2 separate regions of the Homo sapiens genome follow, and region 2 is linked to region 1. The links come from fine-mapping of genetic effects on gene expression. Tissue or cell type: skeletal muscle. Region 1 holds a variant in brackets; the other region holds the start of a gene. All regions are shown on one strand. Distances are from middle to middle.

Region 1 (8,000 bases):
CAGGAGGCTGAGGCAGGAGAATGGCGTGAACCCAGGAGGCAGAGCTTGCAGTGAGCCGAGACCACGCCACTGCACTCCAGCCTGGGCGACAGAGCGAGACTCCATCTCAAAAAAAAGGAATTGAACTACCATGGAGAAGAATTAGAATTAGCAGCTGCTACAAATAATCTCCTGGAACTGTTATGTCATAGAGCAAAGCAAAGAGATTTTTAGAACAAGTATAAATAAAATGCTCAAATGAGGAAAAAAATGAATAGAAATGAGGGAAAAAATGAATAGAAATGTAAGACAAAGACAAGATATTTTGAAAAATGGCAGATTTGGGAAATAACAAAATAGAAATTATAGAAATGAGACATGAAGTAATTAAAATAAAATCACTGGCCCCCAGAACTTTGTTTCTCATACCATTCTCCAAGGAACCGGGACTTCTTAGAGAAGTGGCTGATCCCAGGGCTGGGCCAGGGAATGGTGAAGATGGGGCTTGGAGCAGCCTAAAGTTCAGGGAAATGCTAACCAAAAGAAAGTAGGCATCGCGATATTAATAGCAGACAGAATCAAAATTAGGAAAGAAATAGCATTAATAAGAATCAATGGGGTCCGGCGCGGTGGCTCACGCCTGTAATCCCAGCACTTTGGAAGGCCGAGGCGGGTGGATTACCTGAGGTCGGGAGTTTGAGACCAGCCTGGCCAACATGGAGAAACCCTGTCTCTACTAAAAATAGAAAAATTAGCCAGGCATACATAGTGGTGCACACTTGTAATCCCAGCTACTTGGGAGGCTGAGGTAGAAGAATTCGCTTGAACCCGGGAGGCAGAGGTTGCAGTGAGCTGAAATCACACCACTGCACTCCAGCCTGGGCAACAGAGCAAGACTCCATCTCAAAAAAAAAAAGAAAAGAAAAAAAATCAATGGGAACACTACTTGATGATAAAAGGAAATATTTACCAAGTCAGTTTAGCAATGATGACCTTTTATGGTTTAAATAACATAAATCATTTTGAAATAAAATTATTTTCATTACTTTTTAAAACGTACGGATGGAATCTAAGAAGCATGGATATTTGATGCCCACCATCAAAGAACTGAAAAACATACAAACAAGCTCTTCTTATGGAGTCAGAAAAGTTTTCTTTTTGTCCTTGACCTAATACTTACAGTTCACTTACCCAAAATTTTTTCCCAATATACACTACTTAGTGATTGACAGTATTTCATTGATCACTCTATCCTATTTCTCCACAAGAAATATATTTATATAATTATATATATAATTACTTCTAGTGACTATAGAATTTTTAAAATTTCTTTTGGATAGAGTCATAATTTAAGGAGAAAACAATTGATCAAAACAGTATAGCTGTAGTCACCCTACAGTGCTATAGCACACTAGAACTTATTCTTCCTATGTAAGTTGTAATTTTGTATCTATTAGCCAGCCCCTCCCTATCCTCTCCTCCTCCCATTATTGTATATTTTCAAATAACTAAAGGAGAGAATTTCAGATGTTCCCAACATAAAGAAATCATAAATGCTTGAAGTGATAAATATGCCAATTACTCTGATTTGATTATTACATATTGTGTATATGTATCAAAATATCACTCTGTACTCCATAAATATGTTCATTTATTACATATCAATTAAAAATAATTTTTAAAAGAAAAAATCAATATATTAAGATTTTTGATAGTAACAAAAAGTAAAATTGTATAAAACTACATCTTTTAGTGAATGGTTGGAACTTTTTAAAAACTATTTGATAGATCTGCTAATAAATATAGCTTATTAATAGAAGGAGTCAAGATCAGGCATCAATATCTTTCCTGTTTTTTAAGTAGATGTCCCAAGGAGCCTGTTCACATAAGTAAGTAGGTATGAATCAAAAAGTTTTATTTTTTAAAAAGTCACTCTACGTTCTGAACTCTTCCCTAAATATACACCATTAAAAGTTATTTGTAATGACTATCGGCGACAATTCATTAGGTCTTTCTTCAATTTTTGTTGAAAGTAAAGAATTAGAAACTGTGTAACTTGCCAAATGATTACCTCGTAATCACTGTAGTCATTCAATTTGTCAATTCTGTCACCAATTTTTTAATTTTCCCTTGCACATTACCCCTGGAAGTATTTCTACCCCAGTGTAATACATCATAATCGATTCAGAATCAATGAGCATGTCTTTCTTTATAAAGTGGGAGAAGGAGATTGTTAAAAAGGATCTGGGAAGGGGAACCCCTGCAAGCTCCCAGCCTGGCAGTTCAGGGCAACAGTCCTCTTCTGCCCCTGATGAAGTAACTGGGACTGGATGCACCATCTCTGGTAACCAGGAGAACACTTGACAAATATATGAAACAACCACTTTCAGACACTGGATAGCACGAAGTGCAAAACAAGACAGAAACTAATGAGGTGAGCCCTACACTTGCCCGAGCTCTCTGCCCACAGGCATGTTCAGAATCAGGGCACAGGGAAGGGGAATCCAGTCAGTGCACGGGAACCTCTGGGAGTGGAGGAGAAAGAGATCCGAGAGTGGGGAGTTGAGGCTAATGGAGTCTGTGGGGCACAGGATCAGAGAAGAGGGCATATGCCAGGAAAGAGCTCCGGAAATCACATACAAGTTCCCAGGTATGCACGTATCAGAGGTTTTTCAACTGCTCCCCTATATATGGGCACCTGATTTATTTACAATGTGCTTGTGCAGGTAAATTTTCATATTGTTGGAGATATAGCTCCATGATAAATTCCTGGAAGAGGAATCCATGGGTGAAAAAGATAAATGCACATATTGTTTACTCAGATAATGCCAAATTCCCCTTTCGGTGACTTTCCCCTCCATTGAGGTATACCAATTTGCACACTAGCATTGTTACAATAAATTCTATTTTCCTTTCCCCATGGCTCCCAACACAATGTGTTTTAAATATTTTAAATTTTGCCAATCTGATAGATTAGAAATTACATCTCATTATAGTTTACATTTCTCTTAATATGAGTGAGGTGGAGCAACTTTTCATATGTTTAAAGGCCATTTTTGTATTCCTTTCTGTGAATTGTTTGTCTTTTTCTACTTTTTAAAAATACTTTTCCTCTCAATTTTTAAGACTTCTTTAAATATTGGGAATATTAGCCCTTCATCCCTGATATATGTTTTAAATAATTTTTCCCAGCTTCAGTTGGTTTTTGACTTATTGTACTTTATGCTGTGCAAACTTTTTAATGCTTACATACTCATGTTTATTAATCTTTTTTATTGTATCTGGATTTTAAGTTTGAATTTAACATGTTTCTTGCATGGCTTTATCTTTTACAATTAGACCTCTGATCCACTTAGAGTTGATTATTGTGTGAGGTATGAGGTATAAGGTGTGAGGTCTAATTCTAATTTTATCTTTTCCAGTTGGCCAACCAGATGTGCCAGCAACTAGATTATTTATTACAAACTCTACTTTTTCCCGTGTGATTTGAAATACAACCTTTACCACCAAATGTCTCTATACACTTGGGGCTGTTCCTGCAATTGTAATTCTATTGCACCGGTCTCTCCATTCATGAGCCAGTAAGGAGTCTGTTAACTAAATAGGCTTTTTTTTTTTGGCGG[C/T]GGGGAGGGGAGCGGATGGAGTCTTGCTCTGTTGCCCAGGCTGGAGTGCAGTGGCAGGATCCCAGCTCACTGCAGCCTCTGCCTCCTGGGTTCAAGCGATTCTCCTGCCTCAGCCTCCTGAGTAGCTGGTATTACAGGAGCCTGCCATCATGCATGGCTAATTTTTGTATTTTGTTTGTTTGTTTGTTTGTTTGTTTTTGGTAGAGACCGGGTTTTGCCATGTTGGCCAGGCTGGTCTCGATCTCCTGGCCTCAGATGATCCACTCGCCTTGGCCTGCCAAAGTGCTGGGATTACAGAGAAGATATTTTAATGTCTGGTAGGACTAGTTGTGCACACATGCGTGCACGTGCTCACAGGCTTGCACGTGCTCACAGGCGTGCACGTGCTCACACACACACACACACAAGACTTTGTACATCATTGAACATTAGTCTGCCTATTCTTGGTTATGTATTTTTGCACATGAACTTGAGTATTAACTTGTCGACTTCCAGAAAACTTATTTTGTATTAGGATTATATTAAGTTTTTAAATTACCTTAGGGAAAACTGACAACTTACTGTGTTGAGTCATCTACCCAAGAACAGGGGGTGTCTTTCCATTTGTTCAAAGCTACTTCTATACCTCTCAGGAGCATTGAAAAGTTTTCTTCATATGTGTTTTCCACATTTATTTGTTGCTATTAAAAGGAGGTTTATTACATCATCATTATTCCCTGTTACTGTTTTAGATATGAAGGCTATTGATTCCTGTGTGTTAATTTTATATCTCACTACCTTACTAAACCTTTTATGGTTTGGATCCATTTGATGATTGATTCACTGGGATTTTCCAAGTATACTATCAGATCATTTGCAAATAGGTATAGTTTTACACCTTATTTTCCAAGTATAATATCTCTAATCAATTTCTCTTGGCTAATTGGATTTCCCAATGTCCTCAATGCAATGTGAGAAAGAAATGGAGATAGTAAGCATCACTGCCTTTTTCCAGTCAAAGTGGAAATGCCTCTGGTATTTCTCCATTAACCAAAATGATGTGAATGTGTGTTTTATAAAGAAAGCACATATCAATTTCTATTTTGTGTTGAATGGGTATTGAATTTAGTAAGACAGTCTTTAGTAATTACAGAGATAGTCATGTATGTCTCTTAGATATATTAATATGGGGTATTACATTAATGGATTTTCTAATACTGAACCAATCTTGCATTCTGAGAATAAATCCTACTTTGGCCATGAAATATCATACACATAACTCATATTAGTCTGCATTTCTTTTTGTTCTTGCTCTGCTGCCTGCCCAGGCTAAAGTGCAAGAACACGATCTCAGCTTACTGCAGCCTCCAGCTGCAGGGTTCAAGCGATTCTCCCACCTCAGCCTCCAAGTAGCTAGGACTACAGGAATGCACTACAATTATTATTATTATTATTATTGTGAGACAGGGTCTTGCTGTGTTGCCCAGTCTGGTCTTGAACTCCCGGCCTCAAGTGATCCTCCCACCTCACCTCCCAAAGTGCTGGGATTACTGGTGTCAGCCACTGTGCCTGGCTATGCTATGATTATAAAGTTTAAGTAACCCTGTTACTCTTGGTTCAATAATTAGGAAGTTTTTCCTCATTTTCAATGTTCTGGAATAATTTGTGGAGTATTGGGATGTTCTGGTCTCTAAAGGTTTGATGGAATTTTCTCTGGAACCATATGGGCCTGATGAAATTTTTAAAGACAGTGTTTTAATATTAATAGTGTATTTCTTCTTTTATGGAAAATTGTGTTTAAGCTTTCTAACTTTAATGGGAGTTGATTTTGGCCAACTGTATTTCCCTAGGAAATTATTCACTTAATCTAAGTTTTTAACTGTATTTGTGTAGTGGTCTGAAAGTAGTCTCATAGGAATTTTTAAATTCCTGTTGTTTTCATGGTTTTATACAGCTCATTGATAAAAATCAATGTCTATAAATACAAGTGATCACTGAAGTGATCTAACACTGTTCGCATAATCACATCCTTAGTTCCAAGTATGTATATTTTATTTGTCACAAGTTAATATCTTAAGTCTTCTTAACTTGAACAATGAAAACAATTTATTCCTTCTGGTAACTGACAACTTATGGTGTGGCTTATTTTCCTTAATTCTAGCAATTCCAAGAAAAAGGAAAAAAATACAAAATGTCAGAAAAAAAAGTACATATCATCAATTCAACAACTGGAAACAGTTTCAGGATTGAAAGTTTCATCCAGTAACAGAAGAGCACAGTCAGTGCTCATACAAGAATTCACTGATGACATCTTGGGCTCCTGAGCTATAAAGTGCTGTTAAATCCAGAATGTGAAATACATTATGTGAAAAGTAATACTCCAAATGTAAATGTATAAGTTGCCCTTTTCAAGAAGGACTTACAAATATATTAGATTTAATTTTCTTTTAGCTAAACAGAACTTTTTAAGATTTAGTATTTTTTCTTAACAAACAGAAGCTTCTAATTCCTTTTAAGATTAACAAGTAAGATGCAAAATACTAAACAAAGTTACTGAAACAGAGGTATTAAGGACAAACTGAACTTTTATAGTTCACTGACTTCTGCAGTAATTAAAAGTCTGAGACTCCCCTGAAGACTGAATTGGGTATGTCATAGATGTTTAATCATAGCCATCTTATCTGAGTGACATTAGTTACTCTATAGTGCAACATAATCTTTCACAAATTTCTGTTCATTGCAGTGTCATTCCATTCCCTTGTAGACCTCAGATATTAGTAGTCTTTTTTTCTGTGAAGTACAGTCTTGATGAGCTTAGAAGTGTATTTTATATTTTTCGTGAGTTAAAAAAAGTTATCTTTTTTCAAGACAGAAGTACACTTTACAGAAATAATGAAATCCCAGGAGTGATTTGGATTACTGTGGGATGGTGCCAGCACTGGCTGTGGGCAGTACTTAGAACTATGCCCTGTTATGCATCTTTTAGGAGATAGGTTCTACAGAACTGTATGGGTTTTTTTCAAGGTTCTAATGAAAGGTGATTCAATTCAAAGAAAATATTAGAAGTCAGTACAGATGCATGGGAGAAGAAATATAGGGCAATAATATTAATATCAATGTATCAAATTATATCTGTATTTAAAAGCATGGATTCCATAAATTCAAGTGAAATACTTTAATTTCAAGGCTCATCATTGTCATAAATCATAAAGAATATCATAAATACATAACTATTAAAATGCAGGCATTTATTGTGTAAATACAACTACATATAGACAGTAGTATCTTTGCATAGTTCATTATTAAACCAAAACACAAGTTTTTATGTACAAAAACATTCCGTAGAGAAGTGAGAAAATAAAAATAAAAACCCACATATGGGTCTCTATAAATGTCAACATTACACCTATGTGTAATGTTACATTATGTTGTGGTCAAGTCTAACAAGAAGTGGATTGCTGAAGATCGTGAATGCTTCACTGGTTAATCATGAATTTATAGACACTGATCTTTCTCTGGAGAGTATTTGGCCAGTATGAAAGTTAATTTATCCTTGTAGTATTCTATGAAAATAAACTTTCAGGAACTTGGGTGTTTTAGAAACCACTGCTTGGGCACTAAGGAGGGAATGAGTTCTTTCAAAAACATTTTTGTTTTTGTATTCAGTTCTTTAATCAGACAAGAAGTTATTTTTCATGTGGATGTGAAGTAGGCAAATAATTTTCTTTTGCTTTCTGAGTGGGAATACCCAGTTGTCTCAAAAGTCAGTCCATTCCTTCTTTATCCGTAATGCTATTTTTGTCATATATAAAGCTATTTTTAATGGGTGCCCTATTCTCGTCTGTTGTTCTGGCTTTTTTCTTCTTAAACCAGTATCTCCCTAATAGCTGTACAATGCATCTGGTACCTGCTAGGGCAAGTGTCCCCACCATGTCTTCTTCAGAGTTGTATTGGCTGTTTTTAGACATTTATTTTTCATGTAATTTTTTTTTTTGAGACAGAGTCTCACTCTGTCATCCAGGCTGGAGTGCAATGGCATGATCTCAGCTCACTGCAGCCTCCACCTCCTGGGTTTAAGTGATTCTCCCACCTTAGCGCCCTGAGTAGCTGGAATTGCAGGTGCATGCCACCATGTCCAGCTAATTTTTGTATTTTTGTAGAGACGCGGTTTCATCATGTTGGCCAGGCTGGTTTCAAACTCCTGACCTCAAGTGATTCACTCACGTTGGCCTCCCAGAGTGCTGGGATTGCAGGTGTGAACTACCATGCCTGGACTGTTTTTCATGTAAATTTTAAAATCAATTTTTCAGGTTTTTTGAAAAACTCTCCTGGTTTTTTTTTATTGGAATTACACTGAATTCATGCCTTTATAATCGTGAAGTCTCTTGTCCATAAATATGGTATATCTCTCTATTCACA
Region 2 (8,000 bases), 110 kb after region 1:
AAGGCGGAGCCTACAGTGAGCAGAGATCGCACCACTGCACTCTCGCCTGGGTGACAGAGCCAGACTCCGTCTCAAAAAGAAAAAAAAGTATGAATATAAACACGTTTATATGAATATAAAACATGCAGGTTTTATATGATAGATCAGAACTCAAGGGAAATCTGGAATTAGTTACACTGGAAGCAGGACCTCCAGGGCTATCTGCCACTAGTGCTCGGCCTCTGTAGGAACATCAGAAGGCAATCAGAGCAGTATTGATCTCAGTGGAACACTGCACATTCATGCTTGTCGACCTCACTGAATCTCTAATTCCAGTTTGTGGATATCTTTAAGAATACATGTTCTGTAATGTAGAATATTAATTAACTTCATATCACCAGGCGTGTTTGATAACACTGCTAAACAGCATAGAGCTCTGTGGCAAATTATTAAATTTTACTCCCCATGGGCAATGATACATTTATTACAAAAATCAATCTTTGGATAATATTTCCTCAGTAACTCTCTTAGCCATTATAAATATACTGTTATCAATCACATTTATTCCTGTCATTTCTAACAGAATAGGATGATTCTGCCCAATGTATTACTAATCCAAGCTGCAGTCTTCCTTCTGACTTACACTGCTTGGCCAGTCCGATAGTCTCATCCATTAATAAGGGGGAAGTGGGTTAAACATGACATGACTTGTCCTTGATACACACATGCTAGGTCTCAGAGATCACTGTGTCCTCATCTCACACCTTCTGAATGCAATCTCTTTCAAATAATCCAGTCTTTAATTTCATTTTTATTTTTCTTTTCTTTTTTTTATTTTTTGAGATGGAGTCTCGCTCTGTTGCCTAGGCTGGAGTGCAGTGGCACTATCTTGGCTCACTGCAACTTCCGCCTCCCAGGTTCAAGCAATTCTCCTACCTCAGCCTCCCGAGTAGCTGGGACTACAGGCATGCACCACTATGCCTGGCTAATTTTTGTATTTTTAGTAGAGACAGGGTTTCACTATGTTAGCCAGGCTGCTCTCGAACTTCTCACCTCAGGTGATCCACCCACCTCAGCCTTCCCAAAGTGCTGGGAGTACAGGTGTGAGCCACTGCACCCAGCCCAGTCTTTTAATTTTAATACTACTTCTGCCATTAACATCTAACTCACAATTTAGAATTCCAAACACTATTGTTCCTTTCCTGGAAACTTAGAACGTTTACACATGTTCATCTCCCTGGAAATTGCCATACTCTCCATAATTGTCAGAAATTACCTACCATGATTGAATCATTATGTATGCTGTGAGCCAATACATGTGAAGGTGATAAGGCAGCCGTTACCCAGATCATTCTTTTCTCAAAATACAGCCCTTGATGAATCACTCTCATAATTTGTTTTTCATTTTTGAGCTACAACATACTACTTTGGTGATCTTTGGCCTACTTGTGCACCATCTATTTATTCTTTACTTAATATTTATTTTTCCCAAAATATTTTAATTAAATAAATGTATTATGAAAAGAAACTTTCCATCTACTATAAATGGAAACCCAGTACCACAAATAGAGAATAACTTTAAAGATAAATAAAATGAATACAAAATGACTCATTAAATGCTGATCGAAGTGCCTGCTGAAAACACTAAGTCTTTAACCTGCTCTTTGTTATTAAAAATGGAGATCAGTAAATTTATGAGAAAATGTATATCCTTTAATGATTTCATCCAGAAGGAAGGAAAGCTAAAAATTAATGAGTTAAGTATCCATTTTAAGAATTTAGGAAAAAGGCCGGGCGTGGTGGCTCACGTCTGTAATCCTAGCACTCTGGGGGGCTGAGGCTGTTAGGTCACCTGAGGTCAGGAGTTCGTGACCAGCCTGGCAAACATGGTGAAACCCTGTCTCTACTAAAAAATACAAAAAATTAGCCGGGCATGGTGGTGTGTGCCTGTAATCCCAGCTACTTGGGAGGCTGAGGCAGGAGAATCACTTGAACCCACTAGGCGGAGGTTGCAGTGAGCCAAGATCACGCCACTGCACTCCAGCCTGGGGGACAGAGCCGACTCCATCTCAAAAAAGGAATTCATGAAAAAATGTCTTGGGGATAAACCCAAAGAAAATAGGAAATAAAGATGAGAGCAGAATTAATGAAAGAGAAAACAAAGATACAATGGGGACTATCAGCAAAAATAAAAGTTAATTCCTTAAAAACACTACTAAAATTGGCAAACTTGTGGAAGATTGATTAAGGTAAAAGAAAAAAAGTCAACCGGGCACCGTGGTTCACGCCTGTAATCCTAGCACTTTGGGAGGCCACAGAGGCCAGATCACTTAGGCCCAGGAGTTCGAGGCCAGCCTGACCAACTTGGTGAAACCCCGTCTCTACTAAAAATACAAAATTAGCTGGGCGTGGTGGCGCATGTCTGTAGTCCCAGCTACTCGGGAGGCTGAGGCAAGGGAATTGCTTGAGCCCGGGAGGCAGAGGTTGCAGTGAGCCAAGATCGCGCCATTGCACTCCAGCCTGGGCAACAAGAAACTCCATCTTAAAAAAAAAAAAAAAGTAGAAGGGAACTTTTTTAAAGGGCAAATTAAATGGCAAATCTCATGCTTAGCAGTGATAAGGATATTTCTTGATCTCTATTTTTACTCAGCATGTTTTGGAGGGGGCAGCCAGAACAAGACAGAAAAAACAAAGAGGAACAGGGAGGAGGGGAAGGAAGAGGGGAACAAAACCATCACTATTCATGGATAGAGTATTCAAAAAAATTCATACAAACTGACAATGTTAATAATAGATTTTTTCAAGATTACTGATATAAGTTAAATTGCATTTCTACATACCAGCAAGAGTTTAAGAGAAAAGTATGTGTTAATGATAGACATTTATCAAGCAAGAAAAAAATGTTACCTTGGAATAATTATAATGAAAGAACTTACATAGGAATTTTAAGAAGAAAATCTATGAACTTTAATGAAAGACATTAAAAAGACCCTTTAAAAATGGAGTTATGTACATGATGAACCAGAAAATTAAATATCATTGAAATGTCAACTCTCCTCAAATTGATCTTGTAATTCAAAGCAATTTGAATCAAAACCCCAGCAACCTTGCAGAATAAAAACACAATAACCAAAGACACTACTTAAGAAGAAGAGGGAAGACTTGCTCTAGAAGATATTAAGCTTTAACATGAAACCATAATAATTATGTGGCATTCGCATGGGAACAATCAAAGAGAGTAAAAGGCTCAGAGACAGACCCTTGCATTAATGAGAACCTGATACATGAGAGAGGTATCAGCAGGGTTTAGTGGGGGAAAGCTGGGCCATTCCAAAAATGTTACTGGGGCAAGTGGTTAACTATATGGAAACAAGCACGAAAATTTATCTGAACCCCATACTGTGCACAAGTATCAATTCTAGATGATTAAGCACATAAGTGAGAAAATCAAACCTTAAAAATTTTAGAAGGAAGTGGAACACAATATCTTTATGGCTTCAGGGTAAATAAGAATTCCTTTAAAAACAAATAGAAAGCAGTAACCCTCAAGGAAAGGATTGTTAAAATCAAACTACAAGGCCGGGTGCGGTGGCTCACACCTGTAATCCCAGCACTTTGGAACACTGAGGCAGGCGGAACCCCTGAGCTCAGGAGTTTGAGACCAACCTGGGCAACACAGCAAAACCCCATCTCTACAAAAAATACAAAAATTAGCCAGGCATGGTGGCACGCACTTGTAGTCACAGTTACTAGGGAGGCTGAGGTGGGAGGATCACTTGAGCCCAGGAGGCAGTCTGCAATGAGCTTAGACTGCATCATTGCACTCCAGCCTGGGAGTAAGATTCTGTCTCAAAAAAAAAAAAAAAAAAATTCAAGTTACATTAAAATTAAGAATTTCTGCTCACCTAAGGCAAGCTATATAAAATAGAAGATATTTGCCACACAGCAATCAGCAAAAGTTTTGTGTTCAGAATATAGAAAGAACTCTTGAAAATAAAAAAAGAAACAACCTAAGAGAAAAGCAGAAATTGGGGAACAGGCTCTAATTTATATTTATCTTTCATATGGATAATACCTTCATTTAAATATAATACAAAGACTATCTCTGCTTGTAATGAAATAGTAATATACATTTAGTTCAACTTAATTTTTACTGTTTTCAACTACAGAAGTGCTTTTTGTTCCTTAATAATTATATGCTTAACATTATACAAGATTTTTAGACATATATGTTTGTTTCCCTTGTATATAAATTCTCATCTGATGTTTCCACATTTGAGTGCTTCAGTATAGCACCCATTTCTTTTTTTTACCTTACATGGAGTCTTGCTCTGTCTCTCCAGCTGGAGGGCAGTGGCTGATCTCTGCTCACTGCAACTTCCGCCTCCTGGGTTCTAGTGATTTGCCTGCCTCAGCTGTCTGAGTAGTTGGGCTTACAGGCACCTGCCACCAAGCCCAGCTAATTTTTGTATTTTTAGTAGAGAGGGGATTCACCATGTTGGCCAGGGTGGTCTCAAACTCCTGACCTCAAGTGATCCCCCTGCCTCAGCCTCCCAAAGTGCTGAGGTTAGAGACCTGAGCCAGGGTGCCTGACCAGAATATCATTTTTTGATCTAGCATTGCATTTGTGACTATCAAGGTGCCCATGGGTTTGTCTCCATGGGCGCCGCCCTCTTCCTAGGAGAGTAGGTGGGGAGTTTCTGTGCCCCCTCCCCCACCACGGGAAACTTGCCCTCTTGCACACGTGGTGCGGAAGGCGCCATTTTGGCCCAGTTGGTGCTGAGTAAGATGTTCTCGCTTCTCTGCTCAGGGCATGAAGATCTGGGGCAGGTGCAGGACTTGGGGCCCCAGAGAGTGCCACAATCGACTGCCCGTGGGAGTGGGCTGGTGCCTGGGAGCAAGAGCGCGGCCGTCCGGCGCCTGTGTGAGCCGACAGGGCAGCTCCGCCAGGGAACCAGGGGCCCGTCCCTCTGGGGTCATGGGCGGACAGGCACGGGAGCTGAGAGAGGGGACCGGGCCTAGGCCACAGGCCCTCCAAGGAAGCCACAGAGCCAGCTAGTGGCACCCAGGGACTGCGGGAAGCTTCGGCAAGGTAAGCTCTGGCAGGGTAAGCTCGGGACCAACATGGGTTTTAGTGTCTTTTCCTAGTGGTGGGGAATTTCTACAAGGTGGGTAGGACGTGTTAAGGGTGGCCTTAGCAATTTGTAGGCCTAGAGGCCGTCTAGGAGAGGCCTGCAGTTCAGAGTCTCAACAGGGCTTGATGGGGCCTGCCATTTCATTTCGCAATGTGGTTCCTAATGTTTCTTGGGAAACCGGGCGTGTTATGTCTCCATGTCACCCTTTACTTCTTGGATTTCTTGGTGTGCGTGGTTGCCTTTTTCTCTTTTCTTATATTGCAATTTCGGGTCCCACATTTTCTTCCATTCGAATCTGTGCGTCTTCTATGCAAAGCCTGTGGTGGGTCTTGCTCTCGGACTAGTTGAGCAGCATTGCACTCGTGTTGGTTGTGGGAGTTTCATCGTTTCTGTGTGTGTTCAGCATTCTGTTGCGAGTTCCTTATCTTCAGAATGATTGAGAAATGTAGTTTTCAGTTTTAAAGAATATATATTCTTTGGGGAGGTGATTTTATTGCATTTGGCCAGAGAATATGTGACCATTCGGTCACTGAGGACTGGTGTGTACCCCTAGGGACGCAGTATCCACCTGGAGACTGGGTGTCCCCATGGAACCTGATGTCACTCTGGGCCTAGCTGCCCACATGGGTCCTTGGTGTCCACCTGGAGCCTGATGTTCCCCAGGGACCTAGGTATCCATTTGGGTCCTGATGTTCATCTGGGACCTGGTGTTCACCTAGGGCCCGATAGTCACCGGGGGACTGGGTATGTACCTGGGGCCTCATGTCCACCTGTGGTGTGGGTATCCACGTTGGGCCTGTGTGTCAATCTGGTGCCCCATGTCCACCTATGGATTAGATACCCAACTGGGGCCTGCTCTTCATCTTGGACTTGGTGTTTACCTGGAACCTGATGTCCAGATGGGGCATAGATTATCTATGTGGGGACTGGTGTCTAGATGGGGTCTGACAGTCAACTGGGGCCTGGCCTGGTATTTTCCTGAGGTGTGACTGTGAACCTGGGGACTAAAGTCTACCTAGAATCCAGTGTCTACCTTGGGCCTAATGTCCACCGGTGGCCCAATGTAAATCTGGGCACTAAAGTCTACCTAGAATCCAGTGTCTACCTTGGGCCTAATGTCCACCTGTGGCCCAATGTAAATCTGGGGACTAAAGTCTACCTAGAATCCAGTGTGTACCTTGGGCCTAATGTCCACCTGTGGCCCAATGTAAATCTGGGGCCTGGTATTTAGCTAGGGCCTGGGTATTCACCCAGGGCTTGATTTCAGCTGGGCCCTGAAGTTCTCCTAGTGCCTAGTGTCCACCTGAGGCCTTGGTGTCAGTCGGGAACTGGATGTCCACCTGGGGCTTGAGTGTTTCCCGGTGCCTGAGGACTTCCTGGGCCTGGATGTTCACATGGGACCTAGATTGAACCTGAGGCCTGATGTTCATCAGGAGCCCAGGTATCCACCTGGGGAGTGGTGTCCACCCAAGACATTTGGAGTCAAGTGTCCACTTGAGGCCTCATGTCCACCTGGGGCCGGATTGTCCATCAGGGACCTGTTTTTGACCAGGGACCTGGGTATTTACCTGGGGCCTCAGTGCCCACTTGGGGCCTGACATCCACTTGGGTGTTGGTGTCCACCAGGAGCCTAATGTCCACCAGAGTCCTGGGTATCCTCCTGGCACCTGGTGTCTGCCTGGGGCCTGGTGTCCACCTAAAGTGTGGGTATCCACCTAGGACCTGGTGTGCACCTAGGGCCTTTGTCCACCTTGGGCCTGTTGTTCCTCTGGGGCCTTGTGTCCGCCTGGGCCCTGGGTGTGAGCGTGGTACCTGATATCCACCTGTGGCTTCCATAGCCACCTGAGGCCTGGTGGTCATTTGAAACCTGGTGTTCTCCAGGGGCCTGATGTCAACCTGAGGTGTAGATATCCACCTGGGTCCTGGATGTCCAGCTGGGGCCAGATGTCCAGCTCTGGTCTAGGTATACCCCTGGGGCTTGATATTCACCAGGGGTTTAGGCATTTACTTGGCACCTAGTTTCCCTGTGGAGTGTGCCGTCCCATGAGGATTGACATTCAGCTGGGGACTGGGTATCTACCAGGGACCTGGGTATCCACCTCAAGCCTATTGTACTCCTGGAACCTGAGTATTTACCTGGGGTCTGATATGCACCCAGGCCTGTTGCCTACATAGTGTCTTATGTTCCCCTTGAGCCTGAACGTCCGTCTGAGTCCTCGGTATCCTCTGTGGGATGGCTGTCCACCTGTGACATTGTGTCCTGCTGTGGCACGGATGTGAGCCTGGTGCCTGATATACATCTTAAGTCCAGTGTCCACCTGGGGCCTGATGTTGACCTGGGGACTGATGTCCACATGGGAACTGGGCATCCACCTGCGGCCTGATGTCCACTGGGAACTGGATGTTGCCCTGGGGTCAGGGTATCTACCTGGAGCGTGGTGTTCACCAGGGGCCTAGGCATCCACCTGGGGCCTGTAGTCTACCTGGGGCTTCCTGTCCACTGTGGCCCTGGTATTTACCTGGGGCCTGGACATCCACTTGAGGCCTGAAGTTTAAGTGGGGCCTGGTGTTCAACGGGGGCCCATGTGTCAACTTGGGAACAGACATGCACCGAGATGCCTGATATCCATCTGGGGCCTGGTTTCCACCTGGGGCCTAGTATTTACCTACGGCCTGGGCGTCCACCTATGGTGTATTATCTAAGTATCTAAGTAACAACGTTTGAGAGGTTATTAGGCCTATATATGAACATGCTACTAACTAGAAAAAAGTTATGTGCAAAGGAGCTTTGTGATGTACCTTATTATATTGTTGAATGGAACGTAACTTTTCATTAAACAAGTTCCTAACACATTTTATAGAATCTAACAAATGAGATTTCAGAGG

Direction of the effects. Positions count from the first base shown, and alleles are read on the strand shown. Sizes are in standard deviations (SD) of each study's normalised expression.
For the expression in skeletal muscle of the gene that starts at base 4,741 in region 2, C is the low allele of the variant in region 1 and T is the other (moderate effect, 0.60 SD a copy in GTEx).

What was found. PIP is the estimated chance that this variant, and not a neighbour inherited with it, causes the effect.
Region 2: it holds the start of SACS-AS1, and the variant in region 1 is fine-mapped to the expression of SACS-AS1 in skeletal muscle (GTEx, PIP 0.99).

What each region holds. Positions count from the first base shown.
Region 1 is chr13:23,301,008-23,309,007 of GRCh38, forward strand. All of the region lies in intron 6 of SGCG (sarcoglycan gamma), which reads left to right. Among named protein-coding and RNA genes, the nearest start is that of SACS-AS1, 110 kb to the right of the region's middle. The variant C/T (reference allele first, on the strand shown) is at 3,603.
Region 2 is chr13:23,414,231-23,422,230 of GRCh38, forward strand. SACS-AS1 (SACS antisense RNA 1) reads left to right here and starts at 4,741. Exons shown (of 2, transcript NR_103450.1): 1 at 4,741-5,071. All of the region lies in intron 1 of SACS (sacsin molecular chaperone), which reads right to left.